2 linked regions of the Homo sapiens genome follow. The protein of the gene in region 1 purifies or fractionates together with the protein of each later gene. This does not show direct contact. Each region holds a gene or a part of one and is shown in the gene's direction. Other genes may lie near its edges.

What was found.
Region 2: the proteins of FAM117A (region 1) and COBLL1 purify together in Homo sapiens (affinity purification with mass spectrometry, with the first as the bait; one large-scale study listed by BioGRID). This does not show direct contact.

What each region holds. Positions count from the first base shown.
Region 1 is NC_000017.11:49,761,332-49,765,538, reverse strand, and holds the start of FAM117A (protein FAM117A), read left to right. Parts: upstream 1-1,407; 5' UTR 1,408-1,451; coding exon 1,452-1,647; intron 1,648-4,207.
Region 2 is NC_000002.12:164,679,464-164,682,556, reverse strand, and holds the end of COBLL1 (cordon-bleu protein-like 1), read left to right. Parts: 3' UTR 1-2,369; downstream 2,370-3,093.

The sequences.
Region 1 (4,207 bases):
CTAATTTTAATATTCAACCCACTCTTGAATTTCCACTTTGGGTATTATCTACTTTCAATATTTAATCCCAGAATGACTTCTCTTTGCCTCACAGCAGGCTCCCAGATTACCTCTTTTTCTCTGATTAGTTAGTATGGCTTCAGGGAATATCTTCTTTTTAACATTAAACTGGGCAAAAACAGAAATAGAAAGAAAAATCTGTAGCAAGATCAAAAATAGAATTCACAGCTAAATATAAATCTGGAGGGAATTATTCAATTATTTGAATGGTCCCCAATCACAGACAATCCAGGGTTGATTGACTTTTGCTTTTTCCATATGTAGAACAAAATGGTTAACAAATACCAAGAGTAATATTTTTTTTCTTTTGAAGCATAATACTTTTTAATAGTATCTTAAATGTTATTTTCTTTCCCAAATCCCTTTATATTATTATATCATGTGCTTTTCACAACTGCATGCATTCTCTTTGGGGACCTTCCAGTCTCATTCTGACTTGTAAGTCAGAGAGCATTGATCTTGGAAGACCAGGATTTGTTAACGGAGTCGCGGTGCAAACTTGGGCAAGTTTTTCAGTTGCTTTGTTCCTTTCACTCTGCTGAGCTAGACTTGGAGTGGACGACTCTGAAGGGAAATTCCCTGCTTCTTTTCAGAGTCCCAATTTAATTTACAGGCTAGCAATTGTTTTTTTAAGGTTGGATCAACACCAAGTAGGGACTTGGAAACGTGGAGAAAGACAGATGTAAGTGTCACACGAGGCAAGGTCGCCATTAAATACACAAATATAATGCAAATCACATGCAAATGATATGCAAACCTTGCATTAATTTGTAGGATCTTAGTTTGGAGCTTGTAAGTAGCACTGAGATCCTATAAGGATTTAAAACTAATGTTTTTTAGGTTAAATTAAATGTAATACTTTTTGAAGGTATCGCTTTCTCTGTGATTCAGGGACTCAACTGTGTAAAGTTTGACACTGCTCCCTACTCCCGCCCCCAAAAATTATTTCACTAGTGTTTGACTCCAACCTACACCCAGCGCCGCGCCCACTCTCCAGCTCAGCCTGACGTCACGTGACATTATATTTGCATACTACCTGGGACTGGGTGTGACGCTCCCCTATTCTGCGTCTTCTCATTGGTGGCGCTGGAGAACCAGCCCTCTTCTGTACAGGCCAATCAGCAGCCCCTGGGATGTTGGAAAACCGAAGGGGGCGGTGTGAGGGTGGGGTCTTGGCTTGGATCGCTAGGCTCATCGACCAATCATCCTCAGGAAAGGGAAGGCTAAGCTGTGGATTGGCTGGGGTGGAAGGTCTGGGTTTCCGCAGTCCAATGACAGCTCTAGGATGAGGGGGCCGGTCCCCGCCCCGTACAGCAGATAAGCAGCGGCCTCGGGGGTTGGGGGGCTGTGTGAGTCTCGCAGTGGGGCTGAGGCAGGCAGCCGGGAGAGCCATGGCGGGGGCCGCAGCGGGCGGCAGAGGCGGAGGTGCCTGGGGGCCGGGGCGCGGAGGGGCCGGGGGGCTCCGGCGGGGCTGCTCTCCCCCAGCCCCCGCCGGCTCCCCCCGGGCTGGGCTGCAGCCGCTCAGGGCCACGATCCCCTTCCAGCTGCAGCAGCCGCACCAGCGCCGGGACGGGGGTGGCCGTGCAGGTGAGCCGGGCCTGGAGCGGGTGCCGTGGAAGGAGCCATTGGGGGAGGGGGGGCGCGTGACCGCGGGAGGGGGACGGGGAGAAGTGTGAGGGGAAAGTGGATGGGGGCGAGGGAAGAGAAAGGGGGCGTTCAGAGTCTATGAGGGCGGAGGGAGCAAGAGCGAGGAGCCGTGAAACGTGGGGAGCACCGCTGGGACGGAGTGTGCGGGGAGTCGGGTCCCGGAGGTGAGGGGAGGGACCTGGCAGATGGAGGCTGGCTTTGGGGGCGTAACCGAAAAGTGGGCAGAGGTGTCGTGTGGGGTGAGTGGAAGATGCAGGGGGTGGGAGCGAGGCGTGAGGAGGAGTGGCGCGTGGTGGGGGCGCCCCGTGCGGATGGCTGGCGCTGGGAGCAGGAGTCGGTGGGCGCTGGACTATTGCACGGGGAGGGGGAGGGGCATGGAGTAGAGCCCCGTGCAGCCGTGTGTTACTTCTCCAGCTTGAGTTTGGCCCCAGCATCCCTCTCAACTGCGCTGGAGTTCCATTCTCCACCACTTCACGTGCGCTTCCCTTTATGCCACCTCCTGGAACTGATTTCATCTCAGCCCGCTGGACTAAGTTTAACGGCTTTTACCGTGGTGCAAATGCCCAGCTCCCTGCATTCTTCTCCCTGTGTCCCAGAAGTTGTACGTTCCCAGATTCTTGACCTGCTTAATATGGCTGTCTCATTCCAACCATCGTTTGTGTACGAGCGTGTGTGTGTGTGTGTGTGTGTGTGTGTGTGTGTGTGTGTAGCGGGGGGGAGACCTGGGCAGTTTTGCCCCCTACCTTTCTTTCTACTCCCTCCACCCCTCTACCCACCAAGGCTGTTTTGTCCGGGGCATTGCAGCCAACGTGGCAGTGGGGTGAGGGCTACAGTCAAGTGCATGGTGGCAAGTACCCCACTTTCTGAACAGCACTGAAATGGGTTCTTAATAACAGCTTGATGTGGTGGCTGTGGGGAAACTAGGGAGAAGCAAACTTAACCTTGCTTTGATACTCAAATCTGTGAGGATCCCACAAATGCAAGTACTTAGGAAGGGGAAAAGGAACCTACTTGCATGAGGAGGTTGGCAATAAGTTGAAAGTGAGGCTTGCATTTGATTCACACCAGATGTGAAAAGATCATTGCACACTTCCAAAGCCGGAGCCTCTACCAAATGTACAAAAATCATGATTCCTGCCGTCTTAACGGTTAATGACATTCTCTAAACCAGAGTCTCTTGAGCTTCTGATGATTACCAAGCCTAGTTACTGCACATCTCCTTCCTGCTTCTGCAGGGCTATTACAGAAGTAGTAGCTACTACAGGGCTACTCCTTGCTAGGTAGGAATGGGCTTAAGAGGATCTCTGAGATAGAAAGCCCCCAAGTCTTTCTGGACTTTTCACTGTATATGTTAGCATCACATCTTGGGATGCAGAAACTTGGTCAAATCTGGTAGCAAGATGGTGACCAAGTAGTAAAAGTATGTTTAGAATCCGGTGGTGTAGAGTAAGGCAATGCCCAGACTAACTCATGCCTATCATGAGTTATAAAGCAAACCACAAGACTACAAACCTGTTGGTTTTGTTTGGGCTTCCTTGAAACCCCGGGAAGTTGGTAGAACAAGAACCGGAACCTTAGTCACTTTTAGTGGAAAACAACAGAAAGCCTACCTGTATAGTAGCTGGAAACTGATTAGCAATCATTTTAAGATCAGTTATTTTGTGTCTATTATAGAACTAATATTAAAAGGACAATTGCTGGTGGATGCTGTGGAAGGGGGAAGAACGTAGGTTTGGATGTCTGGGTTCATTACATGGCCTGCTCCTTTTATAGAGCCAGAGGCCCTGGGATACTGGTAGAAATGTAGGAAGCTAGAGCTCTGCATAATTTGTCAGGTGATTTAAGGCAAGTTGGGTGGACTCTTGCTTATAGATTGGTCTGATCAATAATTTGTCCACCTATTAATATCTTAGAAGTGTTAATAAGGCATTCGCCTAGTTGGTAGTTGGGGGGATTATCTGTAGATTTTCAGTATGGCAGGAGAGGGGAAAAAATAGGAGAAGAAAGTGGCCAGGCATTAGGGGAATGTACCTGGCCTCTGTTTTGGAGGCACATCAGGGCTTTTATATGTTAACTTCAGCCCACATACGTGTTCACATTATTTCCATTCCTTGGCCTTGGAAAGCACCAGAGGTGGTTTTTTCTAGGACAGTAGAGTATATGGGATAAAAGGAAACCCCTTGTAGTCATAAACCTTTAAGAGATTGGCACTGGGAGCTGGAATGCCTGGGTTTTAAATCCAGGTTCTGCCATTTACTAGTTGTGTGGCTTTGAGGAAGTTCTTTCTGTGTCTTAGTTTCCTCATCTGTGGATAATAATATCTATATCATAAGAATTAAATGAGTTAATAGATAGAAAGTGCTTAAAACGTGCCTGGCACATGAGAAGTGCTATAAAAGTGTTTGCTGCTGCTTATATTATTATTCCCTCTGCTCGCCAAGGTGAGAGCACTGTTGGCCAGAGCCCATTGCCTTTTCAGGCTTCAAAGAGCAAACCCAGA
Region 2 (3,093 bases), on another chromosome or scaffold:
CTAGGCACTGGCAACAGCATACACACTCTGTCATCTTATCCAAGTCCTTGAAATGAGACCAATCTTTGTCCTGAGACTTAGTTACTTATAGGTGCTTAAAACCCAAAGCGTCCCAATTGATACAATTATGTATGTGTCTAATTCCAGTTTACTTTGTACCCACTACCAGTAGAGAAAATAAGTATCAAAGAACTAAGAATCAAACTCATCATTTTTAAAATCTACTGATTTTGATAACTGACTTGAAAGAAAAGAACTTGCAATTAGAGGTCATAGTGAAGATTTCCAGGGTCAAAGTGATTTCTGAGGTTTTAGATGTAAAAATATCTCCTATTTATTTGCTATTTCAGAGTTGACAACAAGATTTTTATTTGATCCACATATTTAAAAGGTGTGCAAAGATTGCTACTTTACAAAGGTCACAGAAGCAGAGGAGTCTCAGAGTCCCACATCCAATTACTAATTTGTTCTTCCCCATGACTAAATGTAGCAAATGATGAAGAAACTGGTGCTAGATTTCAAGGGATACCAGAATAGGAAGTTATTTGTTCTGAATCTTCAGTTGGTTTTCCTTTTCTCTTAAATGTTACCACTTTCCTGCAAATTTCCATCCTTAATATGTTAGACTGTTCATATAGATACATTGTGTTTACAACAAGGAAAAAATGCCACCATGTGCTCAGAACTTTTTTGACAGGTATTTTGAGAAGAGTTGTGGAACATTCTGGTAATTTGTAGAGATCTGTTGGCATCTCTGCTTCACAAACTGGAAAAAATCATTTGTAAGTCTTGCTAATTACTTTTCTTGGAGAAGAAAAAAAATGCTACAGTTGCAAACAAATGTATAGTTTTCAAAAAGAAGCAACTTTTTTGCTCCCCAGTTTATTCTTAGTTTCCAGCCCACGCCTTGCGATAGCGATAGGCATAGTGATGGCCTCAATTCTTTCTCTCTTGCATCCATACCTTTTGCTGTGATAGCAGTGATGGCCTCAGTTCTTTCCCTCTCTTGCATCCGTACCTTTTGCTGTGTGACTTTGCAGCTCCTCTCATTAAAGAGGCAGAGCCCCCTCTCCCACCCATAGGAGCAGGTTTTGAGAGTAACAGAATGAAGTGAAAATGACACTGTGCCAGTTCTAAGACCAGCCCTCAAAGGTTCATGTGTTTCTGCTTGCTTTCACTGTATTTGAAATGTTGCTGTGAGAAAGACATCTCTGAAACAGCTGAATGGTCCTAAGAAAAGGATGAGAGATGCAGGGAGCAGAGCTCCCAACTGAGGCCAGCCTAGATCACCTAAGAGCCAGGCCCCCAGTTTACTCTGATGTGTAAGCAATAAATGCTTACCCCAGCAATACCACCAAGGTTTGTGGTTGGTTTATATACAGCATTAATGTGGCAATAGGTGCAATACACCCTGTTAAACAAACCATACACATATGACTCTAACCCTAATCATAAATTGATTCAGTCTGTTCAGTTCCACAACGCTGTTTCCTCCAGAATCTCACAGATGACTTACTAAATCCAACACAAATACACCTCAGACTTTCTGTCTAGCTCCCAACCAGTTAAAAGCAATTCTAAATATTTTTTTTCTTAGTCGTAGTGCAAAAGTATATTCTCTCCCTTTCTCTATAGTTTTCTCTCATTTTGTCTTCAGACCTAGAAGCATGAGAGCCCAGCTGTCAAAGTCATCTAGACCCCCTTCAGAAGGTCATTAAATTTGTCTATTTCACAGGATTGCAAGATAAAATACAGAATGCCCAGTTAAATTTGAACTTCGGATAAACAACAAATTTTTTTTTAGTATAAGCATATCCCATACAATATTTGGGATATACTTATATTTTTATATTGTTTATCTGACGTTCAAGCTAACTAGGCATCCTGTATTTTTCTTAGCTAAATCTGGCAACTGTGCTATTTCATTGAAAACCTGAAAGTGTACAAAGAAGGAAGAAGCAGAATCTGCCATATGAGTAATAGAAGTGAGCAGGCCCAGGACTCCCTAAGTCAAGAAACCAAGAGGCGTCATTACGGAAAAGAGTAACTCACCCTGTGTGCTCCTTGGTAGTTCTCCCTCAGCGATGCCCCCATGTTATGAATGGGGAAAAGTTCACTGAAGGGTTCATAGTGAAGAAACTTTTTGGATGATTTCTGTTGGTGGGTTTTGGATACCTTCAAGGGATCAGAAAATAATATACTTAGGAAATTTTGGTAATGTCATCATTACTCTCTACATTATTATTATGACGGTTACAATTGTTAAATCTAGGTGGTGGGTATGTGGGTTATATTGTACATGATTTTTAACTTGTCTGCATGTTTGAAATTATAATAAAGTCAATAAATAAATTATTGAGACACTCCTGTTACAGTGACCGATTGCACTCTATTCATATGGATAAAGACATTTAATTTGTGGCCATTTGTTCTCCTTCCACCCATTAAGAATGTTAGTCAAGTCAGGATAGATGATTGGAGGCAAGTAGGAATTTGGCAAAAGCATCTCACTATTAGCAAAGTTAATTAAGGGTGTTATGGTTCAGTTTTAACTAAAAAACACCATACACTGCAAGATCTGATGGAGCACAGTATTATTATTATTATTATTATTATTTATATTTATATTTTAAGTTCTGGGATACATGTGCAGAACATGCAGGTTTGTTACATCAGTATACATGTGCCATGGTAGTTTGCTGCACCCATCAACCCATCGTCTACATTAGATATTTCTCTTAATGATATCCCTCCTCTAGCCCCCGCCCCCACCCCCCGAGAGGCCCAGTGTATGATGTTCCCTTCCCTGTGTCCATGTGTTCTCATTGTTCAGCTCCCATTTATGCGGTGTTTGGTTTTCTGTTCTTGGAACACGGCATTATTTTTAAGAGGGACGAGAGAAATAGGGAAAATGAAATTTAAATACCAGTTCTCTACCATTTACTCTGCTACATGTCCCTTGAGGTAGATTTTTATCACATTTTACTCATGAAGTTCAGAGCACCCTAGGGTGGTGCTGGGGTTGAAGACATATTTGATACCATGGCCCCATTTTTTTCTGCTATACTCTGCTGCCTTATTCCAATTGTAACT